6 linked regions of the Homo sapiens genome follow. The protein of the gene in region 1 interacts with the protein of each later gene in a biochemical or structural test. Each region holds a gene or a part of one and is shown on either strand. Other genes may lie near its edges.

Region 1 (4,386 bases):
AAAGGCCCTGTAGATGAGACTCACACTTTTCATTACAATGTCAAATCAGAACGCTAAGCCAGGTGCAATGCCTCACACCTGTAATCCCAACACTTTAGAAGGCCAAAGCTTGAGATCACTTGAGGCCAGAGTTTTCAGACCAGCCTGGGCCACATGGCATGACCCCATCCCTACAAAAAATCTATCAGAATGCTTAAAATTGCTATTAAGTTCCCAATACGTATTTAGGTTTGTTTCCAATCACGGGGTGCTGGGGGTTAACATTAGTATCTGCCTCAGGTTTTGGACACTATGGACAGTCTGGAATTTGACACTAGGGCAAACTCCAGATTGCTCAAACCACTACATTCACATGTTCAAGCAGACCAGAGTCACTGGCCTGCTTTTAATCTTTCTTTTACAAGTGTAATCAACCAGGTAAGGCTGATAGACTATTTCCCAAAACTCACGTTTTGAAAATTCCCCTCCCAGGCTAGGCCTGCACTTTGGGAGGCTGAGGTGGGCAGATCTCCTTGAGCCCAGGAGTTGAGACCACCCTGGGCAACTAAGCGATACTCGGTCTCTACAAAAATTAGCTGGGCATAGGGGTGCATGCCTGCAGTCCCAGCAACTAGTGAGACTGAGGTGGGAAAATGGCTTGAGCACAGGATGCAGAGAATGCAGTGAGTTGCTTGTGCCACTGCACTACAAGCCTGGGTGACCGACCTGCCTCAAAAACTCTTCCCGCTTTTTTTCCTCCTGTATTCCTCTATTCAATCTCAGCTGCCACAATTAGACAGACGGAAAGCGCAAGGACATGTTCTTCTTGCATCTGTGGTGGAAACCATAGCAGCAGATAGCAACTGCTCCAGGTCTGTCAAATAGATGCATTTTCTTATTCAGACACCCCATCTTTTCAGATACAATATAGAGAACATTTTTACCCCTTTGCCCACCAGCCAGCCCACATTCTGTGTACCTTCATCTTTTAAATCAGGGGCTGGCAAACTTGCAGGCTCTAGTCTGTTAGACACAACTCTGCTCATGCACTGACAACAGCCACAGTCAATCCATAAATGAATAAGCATAGCCACGTTCCAATAAAACTGGACTCGAACTTAAATTCCATATCCCACAAGGTATTCTTTTCCCCTCAACCATTTAAAAAGGCAACCAACCACCTTAAAGTGTACAAAACAGGTGGTCAGATAGGCTAGTTTGCCAGTCCCTGTTCTAGTTACCAGGGAGTTTAATTAACATTCATCCCAAAAGACTTCGCTCTCTTTATGTGAAATAAGCTGAGACAAAGTTGCTTCCACTGAATGAGTCTCTTTTTATTCTCTTGGTAATCTCTTCCAGTTAACTACTTCCGTTGTAGGTGATGAAATGGGTAAGGCTCCACACTTCAGATGTTGGCACTGCTATGAGCATGGTCTTTCCCTTTATTGCAACTCAAAATCAGAACCTTTGATTCTTTTTTATATTCCAGTCCCAGAAGTAGTCTCCACTGTAGAAGTTAATTGATGAGTAGTAGCCTACAATCAGGCTCTAGCTTCTCCAGGAACACTACAGGATCAATTTAGTTTAAATATGCATTAAACTAAAAGGCATTCTCTCAAATGAGTTTAAATGCATTTTATTTTTAGACAACCTACATGACATGTTTTTCTTAAAAACAATGCCTCCACTCCAAATAAATCACAGTCAAAATAAATGAAGAGCTCAAGATGACATCAGTCCCATTTGTCTTAAGTCCTGGTGTTGTGTGGATGACAAGCAGAAGCCAGTTATGATGACAGGTGATAGATCCAAAATAATTGCCACATTTGTTACTGTAAAAGCAAAAACTACATTAATATTTTTCAAACATTACACTGCAAAAGTTACATTACCATTAACATGCAGCCTACATTTCCAGGCTAAAGATGTATTCCCCAATTCAATCTGGGCCGCCACAAAGACAGACAGAAAGCGCAGGGATTTCTTTCTTTTGCATCCTAGTGCAAACCAAAAGAACAACAGTAAATTGTTCAAGGTCTATCAGTGGATGCAGAACACCCTTACCAAATCAGCGGTAGCTCATTTTTCAGAAGGCTGTGGCATGTACCACCCACACCCTGCTCTACCAACAAAAACCTCAGATACTGTCTGAATAACCCCTTTGGTAAGTCATCTTATACTGTTCTAAGTAATTTCTGTCTACTGTTGACTCTAATCTTGTTCAGTATAGCTTTATGTTTTTCTTCTTCCTTATACAGAAGCCTATGAAAACTAGGATAATGAATGCCTTTGTTTCTGTACAGCTTCCAGCAGTTCCTTCCATAGAAGACACCAAGTTATTTATTATTAGTAAAACAATTTGCATACCAGTTCAGCAGTCAGCTCTATTTACTAAGCTAGTACTGCACTAGGCTTTTCAATGATCAGCTGCCCATTATCAGTAAACCAAAGTGAAAACCACTGATACTGATCCATACGTATACAGCAAAATATGATTATGAAGTGAAAGTGAGGCCATATCTAGAGGAAGATCAATGGTGTTCTCTGATCTCCTTCAGCATTTAAACTCTACTGTATTTTTTTGAGACAGCACCTCACTCTGTCACCCAGGATAGAGTGCAGTGGTGGGATCTCTGCTCACTGCAACCCCCCTCCCAGGTTTAAGTGATTTTCCTGCCTCAGGCTCTCGATTAGCTGGGATTACAGGTGCCCGCTGCCATGCCTGGCTAATTTTTGTATTTTTAGCAGAGATAGGGTTTCGCCATGTTGGCCAGGCTGGTCTCGAACTCCCAACCTCAGGTGATGCACCCACCTCGGCGTCCCAAGTGCTGAAATTACAGGTGTGAGCCACCACACCCAGCCTAAACTGTACTTTATTATGCCCCATCTGCACTCAACGTTTTCCACAAATAAGATTCTAAGCCTTTTTATACCCTAAGAATTTTTTACATATGAAACACAATTCTCTTGATCCCCAAAGAGAAAACTAAAACCATGTTTCAGAACGCTGTAAAACTCATTCTCAGTGTCACAAAACAATTGCAAATCACATCTAAAATGTCTTTTTTACATTATTTATTTTAACCCACTTCCTTGTACTTACACATTTTTCCATTTCTAAACCATCCTTAAAGAAAATCATATATGGGGTCACACCATCCTCACGGTAGTCCAATAGAGCAACCATGCCATCTGGATTCATGTTTTCACCAATAAAGAACTTGGGAAGCAAACAAAATACCTAGAATTAGACTATTACATACAAATACATGCCATTCAAAACAAACTACAGTACAAGGGAAGGTTTAGACCACCACAAAAATCAAAACTTCAGTACCCAAAAGCTCTGATGCTCACTTATCATAGACATCTGTTCACTGGATTAAGGCACCTTAATAGTGACCTAAATAGAAAAATAACGTACAGAGCAATCCAGGAACACTAGGCTTTCAGGAAACCTTTACTCTCAATCCTAAATACAATCCCAAACCCTAAAGCGTGCTTATATAGTCAACCACAGGGAACATAAGGCTGACAGTGATAGAATATATCATACAGTCTGGAAGTATCTTATGGCCAGGGGATGCATGAAGCTGGAAAATTAGAGGAAAGGGAAAGCCACTGACATTTTCCAAAAGTAGAATTAACAAGCTCAGATACATTAGAAGGAGGACCAGTAGCAATGAGACACATTAAAATTGTAAGCAAAAAACTGAAAGAACACTTAGGTGGTTAAGCAATTCACAAAAAGAAAAACTGAGAAATGTCATCTGGGAAGCAAATTTTCAATCAGAAGACAAGATTTGGAAACACCTGCGAGCTGGGAAAGCCACTTTCTACACCTGGAATACTAGTATAGAATTGAAGATTAATCAACTTAATTTTTGCTCTTGCAGTTAAAATTGTACAATCCTTTGATCCAGATACTTAAGGTATTTACCTGGTAGTTTTTGAAATTAGCAAGGATGTGCTTGATTTGTTCTGCAGCCCCTGTCATAAAAGGTTTTACTCTTTCTGGTCTCTGTTCTTCAAGTTTCCCTTTGATTCTAAAACAACATTTCATTAACAGGTTGAAGTATTGAATTTTCAGTAAAATCAATTTTTAAAGTAAAAAATATCCAAGCTTAAAAAAAGAAAACACTGAAAAAGGCAACCAGCTGTTAAGAAATTACTAGTTCACAGAAGGTATCTTTCAAGAATGTTTACATTTCTTGTTGACTATTTTCAAAATACTATTCTAATTCTAAACGGAAACAGACTGCAGGCTTCAGTATGCTCATATTATAGAAAAGCAACCACTCTTTTCCGTGAACTCATTAATAAAAAAGCAAGGACTTTCACAAAAGTATACCCACTGCGAAAGAACCTCAAAAGTTAGCCAATCTTTAAATCCTGTAAGATTCTAGA
Region 2 (5,280 bases), 770 kb from region 1:
TAATGAGAAGATTGAACCATAAAGAGGATAAATAGCCCGATGTTACATAAAACTAGTAAATGACAAGAAAGATCAAATCTAGGCAATCTAACTCCACAGTCCATGCTCCTAACGAGCAGGCTATATTACATATCTAGTGGTAAGACAAGCAAGTTATTTAGAGACTGGGAGGTAAATACCACAATAATCATCTAAAAGAGGTGAAAGTGATTGTTTCTAGGAAAGGAAAACTGGAAAGTAAGGGTGCAGGAAGCTCTTCCATTTATTTCTTGGAAAACCATTTAAACTATCTTTAAACTGTGCATGTACATCTTGAAAAAAAAACTTTAAAAATTATAATTTCGTATTTTAGTTAACAAAGTATTTTAACTGATACTACTGCTATCCTGAGAAGCAGGCAAAATGAGTATTACTCCTATTTTATAGGTAACACACATGCGTCTTAAATATTTGAGGACCTACTATAAAACAGGCAATGTACTTTGCAGACATACATCAATTCACCTAAAAATGTTGATGAGAGATACAAAAAAGCAAGTCTTTTTATTCAGTTCTTTTCCATTTGTTGCATAAATTATATGATCCTGCATCTCTCACAATTGTGCTTAAGATGAGGGACAATATAAACTTTAAATCATGACAAAAAAAAAATCAGGAGAAATGCCTGCTAATTAATTCAAAAAAATAATTCATCCCTGCCCTTGAGGAACATCTAGTCTTGTGGGAAAGATTGGTAAACATAATTATAATTGAATGTGTACAGTGCTTAAATAGAGGAATATTAAAAAGTGCTAAGGAAACAATGTCCCCTGAGTGAAAAGAATGCTTTAAAGAGAACATCTGAGCTGAGTCTTGAAGGATGAATAGAAGTTTGACCCATTTCACGTTAAGAGGCTGTGCTAATAACAATCACAAAACATAAAAGATGCAATACCTGTATTTTCCCATTCTTGTAAAGGTGAATTCACAGTTCATGTTACAGTCTAAGACATTAAGACTTTTTTTTTTTTTTTTTTTAGAGACAGGGTCCTGGTCTGCCACCCAGGCTGGAGTGCAGTGGCATGATCCCAGCTCACTGCAGCCTTGACCTCCAGGGCTCAGGGGATCCTACCACCTCAGCCTTCCAGGTAGCTGGAACTACAGGCATGCGCCACCATGCCTGGCTAATTTTTGTATTTTTTTGTAGAGACAGGGTTTTGCCATGTTGCCCAGGCTGGTCTCAAATTTCTGGGCTCAAGCAATCTGCCCACCTCAGCCTCCCAAAGTGCTGGGATTACAGGTGTGAGCCACCGCACACGGCCTGACATTAAGACCTTTTAAATAAGAATGATTTTTTTTAAAACAAGATACATAATCTTAGCATCCTGATCCATGTTTATAGTCTCTCCCAGTGATCAACTGAAGGCACTTTCCACATGTCTAAACATTTTATAATCTAAAGTGTTAAGAGTATTATTTCAAAAGATGATTAAAAGATAACCATCCTCATCTGTCCTACTGCCCAAATTATATTGTTAACACATTTCCTGATTCATAATATTGAAATTATATATGTATTCCCTCTCTCCTGAGACTAATGGTGACCAAGCCCAGAAGATGCAAGTGACAACAGAAGCTACCATGGGAAGAAAGGTTTTAAAAGTTTGTTTTTTAATCATATCACTGTTTTCTCTTGTAGTTATTCTTAAATTATCTTCCAAGGGCAAATTTAAATGAAAATTAACTTTTTTCCAAACTGTAGTGATAAATAATCTTCAGTAAAACACAATAAAGAATATAATATATATCTTTTCTGATCTTACAAGGTGTTTTAGGGCTACATTCCGATTTCACAGAATTTAAGATACCGCTAAAACAAAAATTTTCTGGTTTTTAATCACGAAACTTTGATGTTAACTAACCAAGGCCCAAATAGGTAGTAAATTCAAAACAGTCCCTGCTCTTGAGGAACTCCTGGTCTTGTGGGAGAGACTGCTAAACATAATTATAATTGAATGTGTACAGTGTCTGAAGACAACTTGTATTAGAGCTATATTTCCTTATTTCTCAGTATGTCTTTTTGTCCCTTTCTAGAATTCCATAATTTCCACCTTATTATTCCTTTTCTCAATTATTATCTGGAAAAATTAATTTTATATTAATATCTTAAACTGGGACCCTATTCCTATAGTTAAAACTCTAGTTGAAAGTAGCATCATCTGACTTTAATTGCCTGGAAGGGCAAGCTGTGGAAAATCCTATCATGTCCTACCAATAGGAGGAAAAAGAGGTGAAAGTCAAGCCAGGAGACCACAAATGGCAATTACAAAATCATGGCAAGTTTGAATTCAAAATGAGTGTTTTTGTTTGTGTATTTTACCCGTCTTTTGTTTCTCTAAACTTAGCATCCACATAATATAGCTGTTTTTATAGAGGCTTCACTCAAATCATAACCTTTTGACTTAAAAAACATTAATATTTGTGGTAATTCTTTTAAAATTAGTTGAGTATTAGCATGATAAAATTAAAGGTTTAACAATAATAATGGAACAATTAAGGAAACTACCTCCTAAAAGTTTATCTTTTAGAGTACAGTTTTGTACAAATAATACAGAATACATTTGGTTAGGTAACAAGGTTTTAATTACCTGACTATTAGAAAAATAATAAAAATCTTGAAAGATAAGATTTTATCAATTTAACCATGTCTTTATCTTACCTTTTAAACAACTAAATAACACAAACCTCACTGAAACATTTGACCTGTTTTCTTTTTCTAAAATTACAACTATTTTGCAATATGCTCAATTTTTCCAAAGCAAAACCCACAAACATACATATAGAATATAAATGCTTAAATTCGCTTGATGAAAGTTCAATCACAAAACCCTCCAACTAATACTAAAATAATTAAATATCTTGCACGCTTACTCCAAATTCCACCGTGAAAATGATGTCTTTTCATAACTCCTATAATAGCATTTTAATCAAGGTTAGTAACAGACTGGAAAATTTGTGAAAAGAACATTACTTTAAAAATCAACATGAAAGATTTCACAACTTTTTTAGCCAGTCAGCTTCAAAGACACAATTTGATTCAATAAGCGTTACTGGCATATTATTTCCAATCTACGTGAAAAAACGCTTGGTTTAATAATGTACTTTAGGCTTTCTGTATCTTTTTGGTAAGGAAAGAAAGGAACAGGTGGAGTAGATTAGCCAGAGACCAAGGTCTTATTTTCACGCCTCTATAAATTCAATCCTCCAAGACTTACTTTCTCTGTTCTTTAAAATGGCTACCACCTTGATCTACCATGCAAAAGAAAAAATGTTCAGCATACTATCAAGATAAGTCTGGTTATTTTGATAGTTTATGTCCTCCTTTCCCACAAAATAAGATTCCCATTCCTTTACTGTTCAGATAAAATGACCATTAAATAAGTACGCAAAAGTTGGTCAGTTGGAGTATGAGGGCAACCTATATAACCCAGATTAAGTCATCTTTCCTACCATATCTGACTAGGAAAAGTAGGCAACAATATCTTTCACAGACTAAGATCAAACACAGTAGAAATGAAAAAGGGATGTCTAGTAAAGGAGAACAAACGTGGGAACCACAACCCCCCAAGAGATTATTTTAGCAGCTCAAAATAGATTAACTATTATGTGGGTTAGCAAAAATTAAGCTTTCCATAATATTTCTAAAAAGCATTTTAGAGATAATAAAACCACTTGGCGCCCCCAAACCTGTTTTTAATGTGAACACATGCTCAACAACTATTCTGAAAATATTGTTTACATATTACTATTATTTCCTACTCCCTCTGAAACCATTCCATAACTCTTGCTCTATAAAACTTCCCATAAAAATGCATTTTTCACATACAAAACACAATATACAATGTTTTAGAGTCATTTTGTGCATACATATAGCTACTAAATAGATTAACTTCAAATCTGTTGAATGTCTCCAGAAATATGACATGATCTTACCTCTCATCCTCGCCATCCACCAGGGGTGTCGTCAGCGGTAGCACCTTCAACGGGAAAAGAGAAGCAGAGGCTGCTAGGCTGCTGCTACTCCCATCTGAAACTGCTGACATTCCCCCACTGTCACCACTGATAGTCTGAGGTAAGCCAACTAAGGAGGGCTCCGCTGCACGCCTGGCATCTTCAATTTGGCTTCCAATTGCCTGAGCTAATGATTGTGCGGAGAACTGGGTAGAACTTAGTGGTATCTGTTGTGCCAAAGGCAAATTTGTATTAGTTGCTATCAAGGGAGGTTGACTAACACTTTGAACCAAATTACCATTTTGGGTAGCAGGGGTTTGTGCTATATTTTGTGGTGGAACCAAGTTTGTTGGGGCAGAAGGCATTCCAGAAGGACCAGTTGAACTAACCTGACTTGTAACAGAAATACTACTAGCAGAGGGCAAAGAACTAACTGCAGGCAACTGCTGTGAAACAATTCCTTGAGCTACTGGTTCTACTCCTTGTGGCTGGGGAGGCACAGTTAACAAGGAACTTTGGGATGCAATAACCAATTGTTGAGGAAGGCTTGGAGCACTAGTTTGAACTCCCTGATGAATAATCCCAGTTTGAGCAGGTGGAACCACTTGCGAAGATGGAGGAGCACCCTGCTGAATAACTGAAGGTGGAACCTGGGTAGAGGGCTGCTGCACTGCAGTAGGTATGTTTGCTTGCTGACCAATATTTGCAATCTGACTGCCAGTAGGTACAGCAGACACTGCTGCCGGAGCCTGGCCAACAGGCTGGACAGATGCCCCTGCAGGTTGTGCTGGGACTGCTGTGGGCTGCACTGGCAGCTGGATACCCTGTGGCTGAGCCACAGGAATCACTGTTGTTCCTGCTCCTACTCCTGCAGAACTGGGCTGTCCGGAGGACATTGCTGTTTGAAGAATTGGCTGCTGTTGTACATACTCTGAAGCAGGATTTTGAGTCACTGATTTGACATGGCCTGGGGCCATCTGTGTAGAAACCATTGGTTGCTGTTGTCCATACTGTAACTGTTGGGGTGGTGGTGCCCCTGGAAGGGGAGTTTGCACTGGAGGAGCCGCCTGAGAATATGGTAGCTGGGGTTGAGCCAAACTGGAAATGGAAGGCTGCTGACCTAAAGCTGAAGTTACACCAACCACATTTACAGGCGATGGCTGGATACCAGTTGCAGCACTCATAGTGGCTTGCAGAGGTACTGGCTGAAGACCTTGCTTTTGCTGATAGCTCAGTTCTTGAGACTGTAATTGTACTTGTGAGATCTGTGACTGAGAAATACTCTGTGGT
Region 3 (4,009 bases), on another chromosome or scaffold:
AGCTGGGGTTTCGCTGACCTCTGTGGGTTCTGGCCCCCCAGGAGGAGACCCCCCTATTCCTGGCCGCCCGCGAGGGCAGCTATGAGGCTGCCAAGCTGCTGTTGGACCACTTTGCCAACCGTGAGATCACCGACCACCTGGACAGGCTGCCGCGGGACGTAGCCCAGGAGAGACTGCACCAGGACATCGTGCGCTTGCTGGATCAACCCAGTGGGCCCCGCAGCCCCCCCGGTCCCCACGGCCTGGGGCCTCTGCTCTGTCCTCCAGGGGCCTTCCTCCCTGGCCTCAAAGCGGCACAGTCGGGGTCCAAGAAGAGCAGGAGGCCCCCCGGGAAGGCGGGGCTGGGGCCGCAGGGGCCCCGGGGGCGGGGCAAGAAGCTGACGCTGGCCTGCCCGGGCCCCCTGGCTGACAGCTCGGTCACGCTGTCGCCCGTGGACTCGCTGGACTCCCCGCGGCCTTTCGGTGGGCCCCCTGCTTCCCCTGGTGGCTTCCCCCTTGAGGGGCCCTATGCAGCTGCCACTGCCACTGCAGTGTCTCTGGCACAGCTTGGTGGCCCAGGCCGGGCGGGTCTAGGGCGCCAGCCCCCTGGAGGATGTGTACTCAGCCTGGGCCTGCTGAACCCTGTGGCTGTGCCCCTCGATTGGGCCCGGCTGCCCCCACCTGCCCCTCCAGGCCCCTCGTTCCTGCTGCCACTGGCGCCGGGACCCCAGCTGCTCAACCCAGGGACCCCCGTCTCCCCGCAGGAGCGGCCCCCGCCTTACCTGGCAGTCCCAGGACATGGCGAGGAGTACCCGGCGGCTGGGGCACACAGCAGCCCCCCAAAGGCCCGCTTCCTGCGGGTTCCCAGTGAGCACCCTTACCTGACCCCATCCCCCGAATCCCCTGAGCACTGGGCCAGCCCCTCACCTCCCTCCCTCTCAGACTGGTCCGAATCCACGCCTAGCCCAGCCACTGCCACTGGGGCCATGGCCACCACCACTGGGGCACTGCCTGCCCAGCCACTTCCCTTGTCTGTTCCCAGCTCCCTTGCTCAGGCCCAGACCCAGCTGGGGCCCCAGCCGGAAGTTACCCCCAAGAGGCAAGTGTTGGCCTGAGACGCTCGTCAGTTCTTAGATCTTGGGGGCCTAAAGAGACCCCCGTCCTGCCTCCTTTCTTTCTCTGTCTCTTCCTTCCTTTTAGTCTTTTTCATCCTCTTCTCTTTCCACCAACCCTCCTGCATCCTTGCCTTGCAGCGTGACCGAGATAGGTCATCAGCCCAGGGCTTCAGTCTTCCTTTATTTATAATGGGTGGGGGCTACCACCCACCCTCTCAGTCTTGTGAAGAGTCTGGGACCTCCTTCTTCCCCACTTCTCTCTTCCCTCATTCCTTTCTCTCTCCTTCTGGCCTCTCATTTCCTTACACTCTGACATGAATGAATTATTATTATTTTTATTTTTCTTTTTTTTTTTACATTTTGTATAGAAACAAATTCATTTAAACAAACTTATTATTATTATTTTTTACAAAATATATATATGGAGATGCTCCCTCCCCCTGTGAACCCCCCAGTGCCCCCGTGGGGCTGAGTCTGTGGGCCCATTCGGCCAAGCTGGATTCTGTGTACCTAGTACACAGGCATGACTGGGATCCCGTGTACCGAGTACACGACCCAGGTATGTACCAAGTAGGCACCCTTGGGCGCACCCACTGGGGCCAGGGGTCGGGGGAGTGTTGGGAGCCTCCTCCCCACCCCACCTCCCTCACTTCACTGCATTCCAGATGGGACATGTTCCATAGCCTTGCTGGGGAAGGGCCCACTGCCAACTCCCTCTGCCCCAGCCCCACCCTTGGCCATCTCCCTTTGGGAACTAGGGGGCTGCTGGTGGGAAATGGGAGCCAGGGCAGATGTATGCATTCCTTTGTGTCCCTGTAAATGTGGGACTACAAGAAGAGGAGCTGCCTGAGTGGTACTTTCTCTTCCTGGTAATCCTCTGGCCCAGCCTCATGGCAGAATAGAGGTATTTTTAGGCTATTTTTGTAATATGGCTTCTGGTCAAAATCCCTGTGTAGCTGAATTCCCAAGCCCTGCATTGTACAGCCCCCCACTCCCCTCACCACCTAATAAAGGAATAGTTAACACTCAGTGTTGTTGGTCTGTGTCTAGGTAAGGTGGGGAGTGGTGGCAGTGGGACTTCTATCTCCCCCACCCAGGGCTAACTTGAGCTCCCATCTTGGGGTAAATACATTTGACTTGCCAGTCTACTTATGCTTCCTCTTTTGGCAGATGACTACCGATTGGATTAGTGGTTGTCACCTGACTTAAGCTGAGCCAATCAGATTCTTTTGCTCGAGAACTTTCTTTAATGGAGAGGCTAAGAAAGTTGTCAGTTGGTGGAGCTCTTAAGGTCACAATCAGATTTAGAAATATCAGTGGCCAATTCGAGGTGGTGGGCAAAGAGACAAGCAAACAGGGCAGAAGAATGAAGCTAATATTCAGGGAGAATCAGAAATGAGAGCTCAAATGGCTCCTTGAGGGCTGGGGGGGTTATCTCGGCTCCCAGTGCAGTTATCAATTCCAGTTAATTGAGTGTTCATTCCATTGAGATCAACAGGTATTTATTAATTGCTTTCTAAGTATCTGATCATGGTTCTGCATGAATTTCACTTTTACTTCATGCTCCTATGGGTTTTGGAGATAACCTTGGACCCATGTAATAAATACTTCTTTACTTGTGCCAGCTTCGGTGGGTTTCTGTTACTCGCAACCAGTCGTGCTCCAAGACAAGGTTCTGTTTACACTGGTGTCTTCAGGAAAGGAGGATAGGATTTAATGTTCGTTGATTCTGTCAGTTGGAGTGCTCCTGGTTGCAAATGACACAAAAGTCTACTGGCTTAAACAAGAAAGGGGTTTATTAGCTCATATAAATTAAAAGGACCTACTTCAGGGGAGAATTGATCTAGTGGCTCAAATGTGGTCAACAATGGCTCAGTTTCTCTTCATCTCTACAGCTTTCTCTGGGCATCAGTTTCATCTACATGCTCCACATGGCACCCAGTAGAACCTCTCTTCCCGACATCACACAGCTCCAGCCTTCTCTCTGTGTTATCAAAATAGGTGCCATATTGCTCCTTCCAGGGAAGAGAGAAACTCCTAGTATTGTGATTGATTTTTCTTTTACTTTCTTCCTTTTTTTTTTTTTTTTTTTAAGATAGAGTCTTGTTCTTGTCACCCAGGCTGGAGTGCAATGGCACAATCTCGGCTCACTGCATCCCCCGCCTCCGGGTTCAAGCAATTCTCCTGCCTCAGTCTCCCAAGTAGCTGGGATTACAGGTGTCCACCTCCATGCCTGGCTAATTTTTGTATTTTCAGTAGAGACAGGATTTCACCATGTTGGCCAGGCTGGTCTCGAACTCCGGACCTCAGGTGATCCATCCACCTTGGCCTCCCAAAGTGCTGGGATTACAGGCATGAGTCATCGCACTCGACCTTGTGGTTGATTTTTCTATTGACTCCAATTGGTTCACGTATCCACCCTCTAACCTAAGGTTTCTTAATTTCGGCATTATTGACATTTGGGGCCAAATCATTCTTTGCTGTGGGGAGCTGTCCTGTGCATTGTAGGATATTTAATAGCATCTCTGGTCCCTACCCATTAGCTACCAGCAGCACCCCTTTTCCAGTTGTGACAACCAATATAACATGTCTCCAGACATTGCCAATTGTCATCTGGGAGGCAGATTCACACCTGTTGTTGTCTTAAAGCATGTCTTAAAGTCTCTTCTTTGGAACTACTGATGTGCTAAATTTAGGGGCAATCAGGTTTGCAGAAGCATGAATTCTGTGGAAGCTTCTAATAAATGTTTACTCCTCTCCCACCCCCTTTAGGCTAAGTCTTTGAAGATGAAACAGTCTCTTTTAGGTTTGTCTCAACTTTATTTTATGTTTATTCCCTTACCCTCTAACCTGTATTGGGCACCTACCGTGTGCCAACTCCCGGACAAGTTGTTGAGAATAGAATGGTGAATTAT
Region 4 (5,280 bases), on another chromosome or scaffold:
CTGGACTGGGGATTTGTTCACAGTGTCAGCAACTCCTGAGCAGCCTGGGCTGGGAAGGGTGCTTTCCCTCTTTGTCCTCCTCCTTTTAAGAGGGATCTCCTTCCCAGAGTCCCTGTGATGCTGGGGCTATGGGCTGGGGAGGAGCAGGGTGGGGAAATTCCTCATCTCAAAGGGCACGAGGCAAGTTTAGCCTGAACAGCAGTACTCCTGGAAGCACCCTGGGGAGGCCTGAGGGTGGGGAGGCCACCAATGTCTCTTAACGGATTGATTTTCTCCCTTTGGTCCAGATGCCGTGGTTCAAGGGCTGGAAGGTGGAGCGTAAGGAGGGCAACGCAAGCGGCGTGTCCCTGCTGGAGGCCCTGGACACCATCCTGCCCCCCACGCGCCCCACGGACAAGCCCCTGCGCCTGCCGCTGCAGGACGTGTACAAGATTGGCGGTGAGCAAGGGCGCTGTGCTGGAGCTCCTGCCTGGCCAGCTCTGCCTGCCCTAGACCAGGGGCCCCTACAAGGCATCTCAAGACTGGGCTGTCTCCAATCTCTCCCCTTACCACACACTTTCTGTGGGACAGTCCATCCCACATCCATCCATCCATCCACCCACCTCCCCACCCATCCATCCTCTGTCCATCCATCCACCCATCCATCTATCCACCTCTCCATCCATCTATCTATCCATCCATCCATCCATCGATCCATCCATCTCCCCACCCATCCATCCTTCACTCCATCCATCCATCCATCCATTGTCCCATCCATCCTTCTCTCTATCGAACCATCCCTCCATCTCTCCATCTATCCACCTCCCCACCCATCCATCCTTCTGTCCATCAATCCATCCATCCATCCATCCATCCACCTCTCCATCCATCCATCCATCTCCCCACCCATCCATCCTTCTCTCTATCCATCCATCCATCCATCCATCCATTGATTGTCCCACCCATCCATCCTTCTCTCTATCCCTCCATCCATCCATCCATGCATCCATCCATCCATTGTCCCACCCATCCATCCTTCTCTCTATCCATCCATCCATCCTTCCATCCATCCATCCACCTCCCCACCCATCCATCCTTCTGTCCATCCATCCATCCATCCATCTCTCCATCCATCCATCCATCCATCCATTGTCTCAACCATCCATCCTTCTCTCTATCCATCCATCCATCCATCCATCCATCTACCCACCCATCCATCCTTCTCTCTATCCATCCATCTATTGACCCACCCATCCATCCTTCTATCTATCCATCCATCCATTCATCCACTCACCCACCTACCCACCCATCCATCCTTCTGTACATCCATCCATCCATCCATCCACCCACCTACCTATCCATCCATCCTTCCATCCATCCATTTATCCATCCATCCATCCATCCATCTATCCACCCACCTACCCACCCATACATCCATCCATCCACCTCCCCATCCATCCACTTCCCCATCCATCCATCCATCCATCCATCTCCCCATCCACCCATCCACCTCTCTATCCATCCATCTCCCCACCCAGCCATCCTTCCCTCCATCATCCATCCATCCATCTCATCCATCCGTTCATCTCCTCATCCATCCATCCATCCATCCATCCATCCATCCATCCATCCATCCACCTCCCCATCCGTCCGTCCATCCATCCATCCATCCATCTATCCCCCCATCCATCCATCCATCCATCCATCCATCCATCCATCTATCCATCCACCTCCCCATCCATCCATTCATCCACCCACCTTCCTACCCATCCATCCTTCTGTCCATCCACTCATCTACCTCCTCATCCATCCATCCATCCATCCATCCACCAATCCATCCATCCATCTCCCTACTCATCCATCTCCCCACCCATCCTTCTGTCCATCCACCTCCCCATCCATCTACCACCCCATTCATACATCCATCCATCCATCCACCCACCTCCCCATCCATCCGTCCATCCATCCATCCATCCCACCAAGAAGAGAAACCATAAACAAATCTGAGACCCTAGAGAAGGGCACTGATAGGAGACCCCCAGCCAGTGGGCTGCAGCCAAAGATGTTGCAGGCATCTCTGTGTGCACTGTGGGGGCATCATGCTCACCCCAGCACAGAGCACAGCCACTGGCCTCAGTGAAGTTGGCTGGAGGCTACAACAGGCCTCCCTCACAGCCCTGGGAGGTGAGGGTGGAGACCCAGTAGCCTGGGGGGGGACAAGACCCCCATGTGGCAGCTGCACAATTGGTTTAAGTAGATCCATGAGAAATGCCAGGGACGCTCATGTGCCGCTGTGCCTGTGCTGCATCTGGCTGAGAGGCCCCTTTAGTGATAGAGACCTGCAGCATCCAAGTGGGGCCCAGAGAGCCTGCAGGGAGCAGGGAGCAGGGCCTGCAGGGAGCAGGGAGCAGGGCCACCAGGCCCCAGGCAGAAGCAGTCAGTCGCCCCGCCCACACTCACAGGGAGGAGTCCTCAGACAAAGGAGGGGTCCCATAGTGCCTCCTTTGAGGGAAAGTGCTCTCCGGGGGCAAGGATGGGACCCCAGGTTCAGACAGCCCCTCTCTGCCCATCCTCCCGCTTCTCTGTCCCTGTGGCTTTTCCGTGGGTTCCTGGGAGCTCTGCTGCTCAGCCTCTTATTTCCCCAGCTGGGTGGGAGAGCCCCCACTTCCCTTGGAATCTCTGTGTCTGCCCTTGTCCCTGGCCTCCCTTCCCCTGCACTCCGCCCATGTGGCCCCAACCCCCAGGCCTGTCGGGGGGATCCAGTCCCAGGCTTTGTTGGTTTCCAGGCTCTGTCCCCGAATATCCTGCCCCAGCATCCCCTCGGGCCCCACCTTCCCCTCACACCCCCTCCCCTCTGCAGGCATTGGCACGGTGCCCGTGGGCCGGGTGGAGACCGGCATCCTGCGGCCGGGCATGGTGGTGACCTTTGCGCCAGTGAACATCACCACTGAGGTGAAGTCAGTGGAGATGCACCACGAGGCTCTGAGCGAAGCTCTGCCCGGCGACAACGTCGGCTTCAATGTGAAGAACGTGTCGGTGAAGGACATCCGGCGGGGCAACGTGTGTGGGGACAGCAAGTCTGACCCGCCGCAGGAGGCTGCTCAGTTCACCTCCCAGGTGGGGGGCTGCGCTGGGTCCAGGGGGCTGGCGCCTGCTGGACAGCAGCAGGACTGTCCTGGGTGAGGCTGCTGTCGGCAGGTGGCCTGGCGTGGGGAGAAAACCAGACCCTCAGGCTGGGCGCAGTGGTTCACGCCTGTAATCCCAGCACTTTGAGAGGCCGAGGCGGGCAGATCACGAGGTCAAGAGATCAAGTCCATCCTGGTCAACATGGTGAAACCCCGTCTCTACTAAAAATACAAAAATTAGCCAGGCGTGGTGGCACGTGCCTGTAGTCCCAGCTATCAGGAAGCTGAGGCAGGAGAATCGCTTGAACCTGGGAGGCGGAGGTTGCAGTGAGCCGAGATTGCGCCACTGCACTCCAGCCTGCGTGACAGAGCGAGACTTCGTCTCAAAAGAAAAAAAAAAAAAGAAAAGGGACCCGCATACCACCGAGGGGGCCACCGAGCACTCAACGAGGGGATCAATCAGTTCTGGGAGGGGTGCAGGCCCTGTGGCTCCCAGCCTGTGTGCAATCGCGGGTCTGTCTTCCACGCTGCACTGCTGGGATGCCCAGCCTTTGAGGTCCTACATTCGTCCTAGAAAAACGCTTTTGTTAACTTACTGTCTGAGACATCTCTGTCATACTTTTATTCTCTACAGTCTTCATTGCCCCTCTTTGCTGGCCTCTTCATATGATTTATTTATTTTTTTTTTGAGACGGAGTCTCGCTCTGTTGCCCAGGCTGGAGTGCAGTGGTGCGATCTCGGCTCACTGCAACCTCCGCCTCCCGGGTTCAAGTGATTCTCCTGCCTCAGCCTCCCAAGTAGGTAAGATTACAGGCATGTGCCACCACGCCTGGCTAATTTTTGTATTATTAGTAGATACGGGGTTTCACCATGTTGGCCAGGCCGGTCTCGAACTCCTGACCTCAAGTGATCCACGTGCGTCAGCCTCCCAAAGTACTGGGATGACAGGTGTGAGCCACCGTGCCTGGCCTCTTCATATGATTTTTAAAAGTGGCTTTATTGAGATACAACTGAAACACAGGAATTGAGGTCCAGTTTTGTCACCCCCCCGCCTTAGTTCCAGCTGGGGTTGGCCGTGTAAGTGCTGCCCCTGCCCCTTCGAAACAATGAATCTCAGTTGTTTATCTTTTGCTTAATGAGGATGTTGAGGTTCAGGTCTGGGGGCTGGGTCCTCAGAGCCTGAGCCCCCTCCAGTCAGCACTCCGGGCCCAGGAGCCCGTGCAGGGGCGCCGGTGACTGGGCCTCCCAGCCCCGCTCTGGCGCCCTCCCGGTGCCCACCGCCGATGTGCCTGATGGCCGCCTGTGGCTCCGCTCGCAGGTCATCATCCTGAACCACCCGGGGCAGATTAGCGCCGGCTACTCCCCGGTCATCGACTGCCACACAGCCCACATCGCCTGCAAGTTTGCGGAGCTGAAGGAGAAGATTGACCGGCGCTCTGGCAAGAAGCTGGAGGACAACCCCAAGTCCCTGAAGTCTGGAGACGCGGCCATCGTGGAGATGGTGCCGGGAAAGCCCATGTGTGTGGAGAGCTTCTCCCAGTACCCGCCTCTCGGTGAGCCGGGGTGGTCCGGGGAGGTGCAGCCCCCAGGCTGTGGCTGATCCAGGCTGAGGGCAGAGGACTGCGGGGATGGGGCGCTGGGGACAGCAGTGGGCCCCCTTTCCTGCGGAGCTTGGCCCAGAGCATGGCAGGAGAGCCACGGCCTCCGTGTCACTGAGTGCAGGTGACCCTGCCCAGACGAGCTGGGGTGGGCCCTGTGTGCAGACGAGGCCCCGAAAGTGAGGGAGGCCCCGCGAGTGAGGAAGGCCCGCGGTCGCCCAGTGGCAGCGTTAGGGCTGCCCCCGCCCCGTGGCCGCCCCGCAGACCGTGGAGCAGCCGCCCAGGCAGGACTCCCGCGAGGCCGGCCGTCTTCACAGGGGCGCGCTCTGCGCTAAGCGTGTTCCGAGGACATTCCCGACGCGGTTGCGCCCCCGCCCGGCCAGAGCCCTGGGGTTGGGGGGGGTCAAGTCCTCCGGCCCCGCCCACACGCCGCCCCCCGCCCCCCAGGCCGCTTCGCCGTGCGCGACATGAGGCAGACGGTGGCCGTAGGCGTCATCAAGAACGTGGAGAAGAAGAGCGGCGGCGCCGGCAAGGTCACCAAGTCGGCGCAGAAGGCGCAGAAGGCGGGCAAGTGAAGC
Region 5 (5,280 bases), on another chromosome or scaffold:
GGGCCCTGGGGTTACACTTGCCTGGATTTGAATCTTGGTTTTTGTTGCTAACCCAGTAACCTTAAGGAAGCGAATGAGGGCTGGGCATGGTGGCTCATGCCCTTAATCCCAACACTGTGGGAGGTGGAAGGATCACTTGAGCCCAGGAGTTTGAGGTTGCAGTGAGCTGTGATAGCACCACTGCAGTCCAGCCTGGGCAACACAGCGAGATCCCATCTCTTTACATAAAAGGGTGAAGAAGTCTTTCTGTGCCTCAGAGCTTTATCTATAAATAGTGATAACTGGCATTGTTGCAGGATTGTCACATTGGGGTTAAAGAGGCTGTGCTCTTTCTTTGTAGACCTTCAATGCTGCTGAGGCAAGTGTGACGCCAGCATATTAACTGTGTTGACAGGCTGCATGGTGGAAGTGCACATGTTCTTAATACTTGGAGAGCTGTCTTTGAAAAGATTTCTCTAAAGAATAAATTTCTTTATACTGACTACTTATCAAGTTGGAATATGTGTTCCTCTGGGGTACTGTTTTGCCCTGGAACATAAATGTACACTCAGGTATCAAACAATTTAAAATATTTTAGTGATGTAGTAATACAAATAGTGAAACCAAAAGCACCAGTGTTTAGGAAGAGTATATGATATGAGATAAGACAAGAGCAGTGGTCATATTAGCAGCCCTGTTGTCTTGCCCCTTCGGGTTATATTACAACTGGGTAAGAGTATTTGGAGAATTTTTGCACAAAATATATCCAAATTTGGCTACTTTAAATTATTTGTAGTCATTGCAACTAGTAGTTCTTGAAGGTTATATTTACAGTTGAGAGACAATAAATTAAAGATGTGCTCTTTATTTACAGCTCAGGATGGTGGCACACAGGCATGTCCTGCCGTGGTTTCACCCTTCATTCTGTTGAAAACTGGATGATAACAAACTCAGGTGTTTACTGCTCCAAGAGCTGCTTTATAAATTGGATGCATACGGGGGCTGGTTCTAGGATTAAGACTGGTAGTAGTAGGGTAAAATGATTAAGGGGCAAATTCTTTTAAAAGTAATCTATAGTAAATTTGTTCACTGGCTTCCACATTTCAGGAGTGAAATTGCACGCAGTGAATTGCTGCATAGCGGTATTTGTTAGCAAGTTCTATTTACTACTTAGTAGTTTATGTCGGTACATCCATACCACTATGGTTTAATAGTGGTTTAATTGCCCACCTAGGAATGATGATGAACATGGTTAAATACAGATTATTTTTAGATTGCATGAAATATTTTGGTTTTGCCCAATTTTAGGGTGAGAACATATACCCTAAATGAATTTTGGGGTAAGAATGTGAAGTATCAAAAAAAAAAAAAAGTAGCCTCTTCTATATTAACCTATTTATGCCTGGTGTTACATTATTGGAACGTTAAGCTTGTGGGAGTTATTTATATCCTACTGCTCAAGGTCACCAAGGTCTGATTTTTCATGAAAAAAAAAATTTTGCAACCTCCGGCATAAATGGGTTAATAACTTAGATTCACACCTGTAATCCCCGCACTTTGGGAGGCCAAGGCGGGTGGATCACTTTAGGTCAGGATTTTGAAACCAGCCTGACCAACATGGTGAAACTCTGTCTCTACTAAAACTACAAAATTAGCCAGACATGGTGGTACATGCCTATAATCCCAGCTACTTGGGAGGCCGAGGCAGGAGAATTGCTTGAACCCAGGAGGCGGAGGTTGTAGTAACCCAAGATTGCACCATTGCCCTCTAGCCTGGGCAACAAGAGTGAAACTCTGTCTCAAAAAAAAAAAATAATAATTAATAATAATTAAAATTGATTCAATGACAATCCATCTTATAATGTAACCAAATTTGCTTTTTTGAAAATTGAGTTTAATTTTTAAAAAATAGGTGTAATGCGCATGGTACAAAAATAAATAGTGCCAAAAGGTGTAAATAGTAAAACTTAAGACGTTCCTACCCTAGCTATCTAACCCCCCACCCCCACCAGCAACCACATTTACCAGTTTCTAGTATATGCCTCTAGGATACTTGATACATGAATATGCAAATATAGTTTTAAGCTTGGGTTTTGTTTTGTTTTTTTTCCTTTTTACACAAAAAGTAATACATCTCCCTCTTGGAGATTATTCCATATCAATACCTATGGCCTCCTTTTCCCCCAAGGCTGCGTAATATCCAGTTGTTGGGATATATATCCTAAGTTAACTGCTGATCAACAGTTAGACTGTTGCTGGTCTTGCTACCATCAGCAGTCCCTTAATGAACATCCCGGACGTTGTTTTAGACATAGGGTAATAATGCACATAGGAAAACTTCCTGGATGTGGGCTATCATAGGGTTACAGTTCATGTTCTTGCCAGCAGTGAATGAGAGTGTCTATTTCCCTACACCCTCACCAGCACTATGTGTTAGCAAACGTTTTGGTACTTACCAATCTGATAGGTGAGAAAAAGCAGTGTACTTTTAAAAATGCAGTGTACTTTTAATAATGCACTTTTCTTCTTAGGAGGGGCTTTGATTTTTCCTATGTTAGAAGATGTTTGTATTTTTCCCCCTATGAATTATCCTGTCTGTGTACTTGGCCATTTTTTTTCTATTGGGTGGTTGGTCTTTGCGTGTTGATGTGAGATTCCCCTTGATATGTGAAGAAAATTAGCGTTTTGTATATGATCTGAGATGCACAGTTTTGTTTTCAGTTTGTCTTTTATTTATGGTTTTTATTTGAGGGGTTTGCAGCCATGAAGAACTTTTTCACATAGTTGAATTTATTTATTAATCTTTTTTTTTTTTTTTTTGAGACGGAGTCTCGCTCTATCGCCCAGGCTGGAGTGCTGTGGCGCGATCTCGGCTCACTGCAAGCTCCGCCACCCAGGTTCACACCATTCTCCTGCCTCAGCCTCCTGAGTAGCTGGGACTACAGGCGCCCGCCACCACGCCCAGCTAGTTTTTTTGTATTTTGAGTGGAGACGGGGTTTCACTGTGTTAGCCAGGATGATATGAATCTCCTGACCTTGTGATCTGCCCACCTTGGCCTCCCAAAGTGCTGGGATTACAGACGTGAGCCATTGTGCCCGGCCTTATTAATCTTTTTTTAACTGATAATGTATTTTAAGCTCTCCCATCTATCATACGCATCGTTTTCATCTTTAAATCTTTGCTTCCTCTGGAATATGTTTTTGCCAAAGTGTGAATTGGAGTTCCAGCTTAGCCATTCATCCTCAGGTGGCTCTGGGCTTGTCCCTACACTCAGTTGAGGGTTACTTTTGGTCCTCACTGATTGAAATGCCAATATTATCATGTACCTCATTCTCATATCTGTCAGGTCTTTCTGGATTTTTCAGTCTGTTCTGTTTGTGAGCCAGTACAGTATTACTTATGAGAGCTTTATGATTTCTACTCAGCTGCCCTCCCAATTGCTATTATATTGTTATATTGCTATTATTCTTTCTCAGAAAGTAGACTTTAAAGGCCGGGCACAGTAGCTCCTGCCACTGCACTCCAGGCTGGGTGACAGAATGAGACTGTCTCAAAAAAAAAAAATCAGACTGGGTGCAGTGGCTCACACGTGTAATCCCAGCACTTTGGGAGGCCAAGGCAAGCGGATCACCTGAGGTCAGGGGTTCGAGACCAGCCTGGCCAACGTGGTAAAATCCTGTCTCTACTGCAAATGCAAAAATGAACCAGGTGTGGTGGTGTAGCCTGTAGTCCCAGCTACTCAGGAGGCTGAGGCAGGAGAATCGCTTGAACCTGAGAGGTGGAGGTTGCAGTGAGCTGAGATAGTGCCATTGCATTCCAGCCTGGGCAACAAGAGGGAAACTACGTCTCAAAAAAAAAAATCAGAATTATATCAGCTGGGGGCTCTTTCCTCCATTATACCTTCTAACTGGTAGTTTTTTACTCAGTGCTTCTTAGACATAACTTCTTTTTTCTATGTTTCCACAGTTTCCCTTTAGGGAAAACAGAATTTTAACTTTGAACCTACTCTAGCTGAGCTAGTGATTAAAATCATTTGGGATTTTGTTTTTAATCTTATTTATTATATCAAAGAATTTATAATAAAACTTAATTTTTCTTTTCTTTTTTTTTTTTTCTTTAAAGAACTTTACCATAGGGCAGTAATTCTGGGCTGTCATAAACAGTGGTTATAACCATACTATAAGTTTACAAAAATAATAGACTGCTGCTTAATCTTCTGGTACCATGATGTGATTTTTCCATAATAGTGCTTAGGACATGTGTTATGTTGACAATTTAGTTTCAACTAAGAATGAAACGTTCGTACCAGACAGTGGCGCGTGCTGTTGAAAACTGCACTGACATCAGAACTTTCTGTATGCTTTAATACGTATATAAAGCAAAGTGTCATAACGCTGCTTTATAAAACTAAAGACTACTGTGCTGTTGCGTAATAGGTACCTTTCTCTTTAATTCCTAGAGTTGCTCAGTAAATAACTCTCTTGGTCCCCAAAAGTCTGAATACCTCAATTGAACCTGGTGTTTTGATCCTCTTTTCTCTTTCTCTGTTTCTCTCTCTCTCCCCCACCTCCCTCCCTCTCTCCCTCTCTCCTTCAGATGCTGATGGCACCCCTCTAGCAACCTGTAGACTGAAGCTCAGGTCATTGTGACTGACATGCAGAGAATAAATCAAATAATATGCCAGTTTCAAATATAAAAATACAGATTTATGGGATAAATCAGCAGGATTTATAAATGTCCTGAGGTCTAGAAGGTTCTGGAGTTAGTGATGCTCATCCCTTGTTTTGAGATCACAGAGCCAATGATTTTTGTGTTCCATCCATCCTCTTCTCCCAGAAATTATGAAGGTCATCAGACTTTCCCCTAAAGTTCTAGAACAGCTAGTCATTTTTAAATATTGGCTTGAACCACATTATCACCTCCAGGCCATTCTTAAAGCTTCACTTTGTAGGCTGTTTCTGGCATAATATTGTAATCCACTCTGCGTCTACTTTGATTTCTTCAGGTAATACATGAAAAACTTTGGGTAAAGTTTGTTTGTGATGCTATATGAAGACTACTCAAAGATAATTTTTTTTCCCCACAGGATGAATATTCTATCTTTCCTCAGACATACTCCATAGATATTAATGGCTATATTCTTGTGTATTCTGTTACATCAATCAAAAGGTAAGACTCCTGCTGCCTGCTTGAGTTGATTTGCTACTCATAGATAACATTGATCCTTTTAAGGGACTGTGCTGGAATTATTAATAGTGACAATTAGAATTATTAGGCTACATGTTTTTTAGTGATTTTCT
Region 6 (5,280 bases), on another chromosome or scaffold:
TCCAGGCATTCAAACCCACTCTCTGCCATGTCATTTAGCTTTCTGTGCCTCAGTGTCCCCACTTAGAATACAGGCTCATGTTGCAGGTTTGTTGTGAGGGTCAAATGAGATGATACATGCACTATACTGATCTCACAGCCTGCTTCTGGTGTGCATCCAGTCAATGAACGTCATTGATAAACACTTGAGGAAACACAGAGGATCACGTAAGGATGAAAAAATGACTGCTTTGTGCTCCTTTCCAGGAGTGGCGGGTGAGGAGGAGCTGCAGGTGATTCAGCCTGACAAGTCCGTGTTGGTTGCAGCTGGAGAGACAGCCACTCTGCGCTGCACTGCGACCTCTCTGATCCCTGTGGGGCCCATCCAGTGGTTCAGAGGAGCTGGACCAGGCCGGGAATTAATCTACAATCAAAAAGAAGGCCACTTCCCCCGGGTAACAACTGTTTCAGACCTCACAAAGAGAAACAACATGGACTTTTCCATCCGCATCGGTAACATCACCCCAGCAGATGCCGGCACCTACTACTGTGTGAAGTTCCGGAAAGGGAGCCCCGATGACGTGGAGTTTAAGTCTGGAGCAGGCACTGAGCTGTCTGTGCGCGGTGAGTACAGCGTGGGCCTCCTTTGCCTCTGGTTTGTGACAGTAACTCAATAATAACACCCTCCATTCTTTGAGCAATGATCAGGTGTGGTGGTAGGTGCTCCTTTCCATGAATTGATGTCTCCCCCTTTTACAAATAAGGGAAGTTGAGGCCTGAAGACGTCATGCTATTTGCTGAAGGCTCCACAGCTGGTAAAGGGTGGGAACATCTGCATCCTTCATCTGCCTGGCTGTGTAGCCCTGGCCTCTTCAAAGCTGACCCAGCCCTTTCATTCCACAGATGAGGAAACTGACAGATAGTGTGACTTGCCCAGGCACAGGACCAGACCTCACCTGCTGCCTCCAGAGAGCACTTCCCTCTCAGGGCAGCCGAGTCTCCTCTATGTGACAGGCACTCACTGAGAACCTACTGTGTGCCAGGCTCCGCCAAGCTTGTGTTCTCATCCCTTCCAATAAGAGATCCACCCAGGGCAGGGAGCAGAGAGGGTGTGTTTCCTTTATTTCATCACCAAACACCAACTGAGAAGATTCCTAAAAGGCACAGATTTACTGTTTAATCTGATGGCCCTGGTGAGAGGAGAAGCCAGAGGGTTGGGCATTTTCTGTGGGTCTTTTAGAAAAACACTTGTGTGATTTAGGGACTGATTCATGCGTCACTAAAGGCTCTGAACAAAGCTGGGTCATCATAGAATGTCTCTCACCCCAGGGAGGAGGTCTCCCTTCTAGGTGACTTTGGGTTCCTCCGTTAAGGCAGCAAAGATGCTCATTTTGTATTTACTGCCAGAGCCCCAGGATCCTTGTTCTAACTCCGAATCCTGGGACATTAGTACAGGAAGGACCCTCAGACCATCCAGCCCAACCCCTAGTTACAGGTGGAAACTTGAAGTCAGGAGATGACAGGGGCCTTGTCCACAGTCATAGGCCCAGTTAGTGACAGGATCTGGACCAGAGCCCACATCTGATTCCAGGGAGGCTCCTTCATTAGCCATTGTTTACATAGAAGAGCCTGGTGCATCATAGGTGCCGACTGAAAGCTCCTTGAACAGAACTGCTAAGCAGGAAGCCAGCACTTCTCCTTTCCATCAGTTTCCTAAAGGTTCAGAATATTCACATTCAGACCGTTAGGCCCACTGGTGATTGGAAAACCGCTCCCAAATGTAAGCCATATCATTTGATACTGAGATTTCATATCAGGATAGAGACCTGCTCCATTGTGTAATAGCTACAGAATACTCCAGCTTATGGAAATACCAGATTTATTTTACCATCTTCCATTGATGGATACGTAACTTGTCCCCAAACTTGAACTATTAAAACAGTCCTGCAGTGGATGACCTTATACATGTGTGACCTTACTCAGGTGGGAGACGCCCACTGCAAGTGCCATTGCTAGATCAGAGGGGGTGTGTGTTTTAATGTGTGTGGATATGGCCTAATTTCCCTCCTAGACATTATAACAATCAAGTCTCCCCACAACCGCTGGACATAGGCAGGGAGGGTGGCTTTATCCTGATTGTGCAGATGTTACAGGAAAAGACGTTGAAGTTCCCAGATGATGCATCTCGTGCCTAGACAATCACAGCAAATACGTGGCTCAGGTGTGACCCAGATCTGCTGACTCCTAGCAGAGTGCTCACTCCTCTTTGCCATGCTGTCAGCCTAAATGATGCCCTGGATGAGAAAGGAGGGAGGTGGGAGGGGGCCAGGGAGCAGCAGCTGGATTGGATCCTCATCCTGGCACTTTCTCCTTTTATAACAAGTACTTATGAAGGAAGAGCCATTTCTTGCCCCCTTTACAGATAAGGACTCTGAGGCTCAGAGAGGAGACCTGTGTGGTGAGCCAGTGGGGGAGCCAAGGTTTGATCCCCACCAGCCTGACTCACAGCCCCTGTCTCTGTAACACTCAGCTATGCTTGTCAAAGTGTGGAGAAATGCTCCACCCTACTCATTCCAAACTCTTGCAGTTCTATAGCAATAAGCATAGGCTGAGGCAGGAGAATGCTTGAACCCAGGAGACGGAGATTACAGTGAGCCGAGATCGCACCACTGTACTCCAGCCTGGGTGATAGAGCAAGATTCTGTCTTGAAAGAAAAAACAAAACAAGTCCTATGGGAGTAGGAGGGACTGGCCCCCATCAGAAAGGTCCTGCAGATGTCTCATGATATGGGAACTTGTTCCTAAAGGACAGGTCTCAGCACATCACTGAGTAGCATCCATGGAGCAGAGTTGGGCCTCCTGCAGCCCAGCAGACCACGTGCCCACCTACTCACGGTGCTGAGGACTAAGGATGAGGAGATGAGGCATTTCCTGGTGGGTGCTTGGGGCTCATTGGAGCAAGAGTTTATATTATCCCCTCAGGCTGTCAGGAGCCCACTGACTTCAGTTTATGGCTATAGGGTAACCAGATCTGGGTACCCTGGAGGGAGGCTTCTCCCTAGAACTGCATGAAGTCAGGGATCTCAAAGGGAAAAAGGGAAGGTGGTGGTCAGTGTCAGGGTTCATGAAGTTCAGGCACTTGCTCAATTGATTGACATGAGAGCTTGGGGAACACTGGAAATGCCCATTGGGTACATGAGGGATGAGGAGACAGTGCCTTCGCTTTTCTCAGCCTCAGTTTCCTCATCTGTAGAATGGTGATAATCAGGGACTCCTTTGGCAGAGTGGAAAGGATTTGAGTTCCTGTGTATAAAACACCCAATGCAGAGTAGACACCCCCAAATCAAGGTTTTTTGTTTGTTTGTTTGTTTTTTCTTTTTTTTTGAGATGGAGTTTCACTCTTGTTGCCCAGGCTGGAGTGCAATGGCACCATCTCGGCTCACTGCAACCTCCACCTCCTGGGTTCAAGCGATTCTGCTTCAACCTCCCAAGTAGCTGGGATTACAGGGGCACCCACCACCACACCAGCTTTTTTTTTTTTTTTTTTTTTTTGTATTTTTAGTAGAGACATGGTTTCATCATGTTGGCCCGGCTGGTCCCAAACTCCTGACCTCAGGTGATCCCCCCACCTCGGCCTCCCAAAGTGCTGGGATTACAGGTGTGAGCCACTGCGCCCTGCCATCAAGGTGTTATTTTAAGATGTGTTACCTTGGGCAACCCAGTTCCCCTTGCTGAGCCTCAGTTTCCCCATGCGTAGAACGTCGATAATTGTACCAACCTTTCCAGGATGTTATGAGGATGCAATGAGCCTGGGGCGACGATAGACCTTAGTAAGCAATGGGGTTTTCCCAAGGTCATGTGATCTTGGGCAAATCCTGGCTTCCCTTGAGTCCTCAGCTTCCCTGTCTATGAAATGATGATGATGATTGCCAACCCTCACAGGTTCTGTGAGGATTGGAGAGGATGTACAGAGCCTCGGAATGGTGGCGGTGTTCGGGTTATCACTGAGCTCCTGCAGAAGTGTGGTTAGGAGAGTGTGGCCAGAGTCCAACTGCCTGGGCCACATCCCAGCTCTGCCACCTCCTGGCTCTGTGACCTGGGACAAGGCACTCCACCACCATGGGCCTCAGTGTCCTCACTTGTCAGTGATAACACCAACCTCACAGACCAGGAGTTGGGACCGAATGAGTTAAATCCTGTAGCGTGCTTAGGGCAGCAGGCGCCTGGCCTGCAGTCAATGTTCAACAGATGTGAGCTGTGTGATGCTGAAGCCATGCAACCTCAGATGGGTTAGTGCTCCTCCAGGCCTCAAGGATAAATGGTCCTTAGGATGTACTCAGGTAGTTTTCAATCTTGGCTGCTCTTTAGGATCATCTGGGAAACATTGAAATAAATCCCAGGCTCCACCACAGAAATGCCTCTTCAATTGGCCTGGCATGGGCCTAGGCATCTAAAGTTTTTAATTAATCCAGAAGATTCTAATACAGAGTCAGGACTGAAAACCCCTGGGATAGACACCCAGAGGTCACGGAGGACAAGTTGGAAAAGATGGTCCTCTTGGGGTGCCAGATGGGAGAACAGCTTTTCAGGGTGTGGATGCTTCTGAACAACGTGCACCCGGGACAGCTCTTTGGAGGCCCCAGTGGCCTGGCCAGACCCCCTCTTATGATACAGGCCTCGGGGGCCAAGGTAGGGGCCCCAGACAAAGCCCTGCTCAGATCCAGCCTCAGTGTGGGGAAACCTTCCATCCTGAAAATGTTTTTGTCTAAATGACCGCCGGAATCCCAGCAAATCCTTCCAATTCGGCCCCAGAACCCTCCCTGCCTCGACACACCAAGATGTCACGGAGGAGTCTGTTCCCTCCTCCTTTAAAATGCTTCCAGCTTCTGTAAATGGCTCTTCTGGAGGGAGGCGCCTGTGATCTTGTGTTTTGAAAGCCAATTCGCCAAACTTGTTTCCTGAGGGGATTGTTTAGAAAAGGGGAGAGAATCCTCACTTGGTGGTTTCTGCTCCTTGTATCATTTGGGTTTGTCATGAGCCACAGGGAGCAGGGTTTGAGCCTTTTCTTGGTGTTTCTGCTCTGCTTTGTTCTGCTGCCTGAAGGATAAATGTGTAGATTCGGAAGCAGTAATGACCAGACCTCCTGATAACAGTCACAGGGGTCATTTATTAAGCACCTGCTGCATACCAGGCTCTGTGCTTGCATTCATCCTCCCTCTTCTTAACAGGGTGGGGTTTGTATCCACTTTTGGCCCTGGGCCTCTCTGAGCTTTGTCCTAAAAGGGGCTCACACGAGGATCCC

The links.
Region 2: the proteins of TPT1 (region 1) and TSC22D1 form a complex in vitro, tested with the Homo sapiens proteins (one study listed by IntAct).
Region 3: the proteins of TPT1 (region 1) and NOTCH3 form a complex in vitro, tested with the Homo sapiens proteins (one study listed by BioGRID).
Region 4: the proteins of TPT1 (region 1) and EEF1A2 form a complex in vitro, tested with the Homo sapiens proteins (one study listed by BioGRID).
Region 5: the proteins of TPT1 (region 1) and RHEB form a complex in vitro, tested with the Homo sapiens proteins (one study listed by IntAct).
Region 6: the proteins of TPT1 (region 1) and SIRPA form a complex in vitro, tested with the Homo sapiens proteins (one large-scale study listed by BioGRID).

What each region holds. Positions count from the first base shown.
Region 1 is NC_000013.11:45,335,578-45,339,963, forward strand, and holds part of TPT1 (translationally-controlled tumor protein), read right to left. Parts: intron 4,026-4,386; coding exon 3,920-4,025; intron 3,200-3,919; coding exon 3,083-3,199; intron 2,033-3,082; exon of another isoform or gene 1,977-2,032; coding exon of another isoform or gene 1,899-1,976; exon of another isoform or gene 1,812-1,898; coding exon 1,809-1,811; 3' UTR 1-1,808. UniProt on the Homo sapiens protein: Involved in calcium binding and microtubule stabilization. Acts as a negative regulator of TSC22D1-mediated apoptosis, via interaction with and destabilization of TSC22D1 protein.
Region 2 is NC_000013.11:44,569,191-44,574,470, forward strand, and holds part of TSC22D1 (TSC22 domain family protein 1), read right to left. Parts: coding exon 3,973-5,280; intron 1-3,972. UniProt on the Homo sapiens protein: Transcriptional repressor. Acts on the C-type natriuretic peptide (CNP) promoter. Acts to promote CASP3-mediated apoptosis.
Region 3 is NC_000019.10:15,157,747-15,161,755, reverse strand, and holds the end of NOTCH3 (neurogenic locus notch homolog protein 3 precursor), read left to right. Parts: intron 1-41; coding exon 42-1,094; 3' UTR 1,095-2,718; downstream 2,719-4,009. UniProt on the Homo sapiens protein: Functions as a receptor for membrane-bound ligands Jagged1, Jagged2 and Delta1 to regulate cell-fate determination.
Region 4 is NC_000020.11:63,488,295-63,493,574, reverse strand, and holds part of EEF1A2 (elongation factor 1-alpha 2), read left to right. Parts: intron 1-287; coding exon 288-438; intron 439-2,839; coding exon 2,840-3,096; intron 3,097-4,422; coding exon 4,423-4,657; intron 4,658-5,149; coding exon 5,150-5,277; 3' UTR 5,278-5,280. UniProt on the Homo sapiens protein: Translation elongation factor that catalyzes the GTP-dependent binding of aminoacyl-tRNA (aa-tRNA) to the A-site of ribosomes during the elongation phase of protein synthesis.
Region 5 is NC_000007.14:151,477,202-151,482,481, reverse strand, and holds part of RHEB (GTP-binding protein Rheb), read left to right. Parts: intron 1-5,066; coding exon 5,067-5,149; intron 5,150-5,280. UniProt on the Homo sapiens protein: Small GTPase that acts as an allosteric activator of the canonical mTORC1 complex, an evolutionarily conserved central nutrient sensor that stimulates anabolic reactions and macromolecule biosynthesis to promote cellular biomass generation and growth.
Region 6 is NC_000020.11:1,914,854-1,920,133, forward strand, and holds part of SIRPA (tyrosine-protein phosphatase non-receptor type substrate 1 isoform 1 precursor), read left to right. Parts: intron 1-245; coding exon 246-602; intron 603-5,280. UniProt on the Homo sapiens protein: Immunoglobulin-like cell surface receptor for CD47. Acts as docking protein and induces translocation of PTPN6, PTPN11 and other binding partners from the cytosol to the plasma membrane.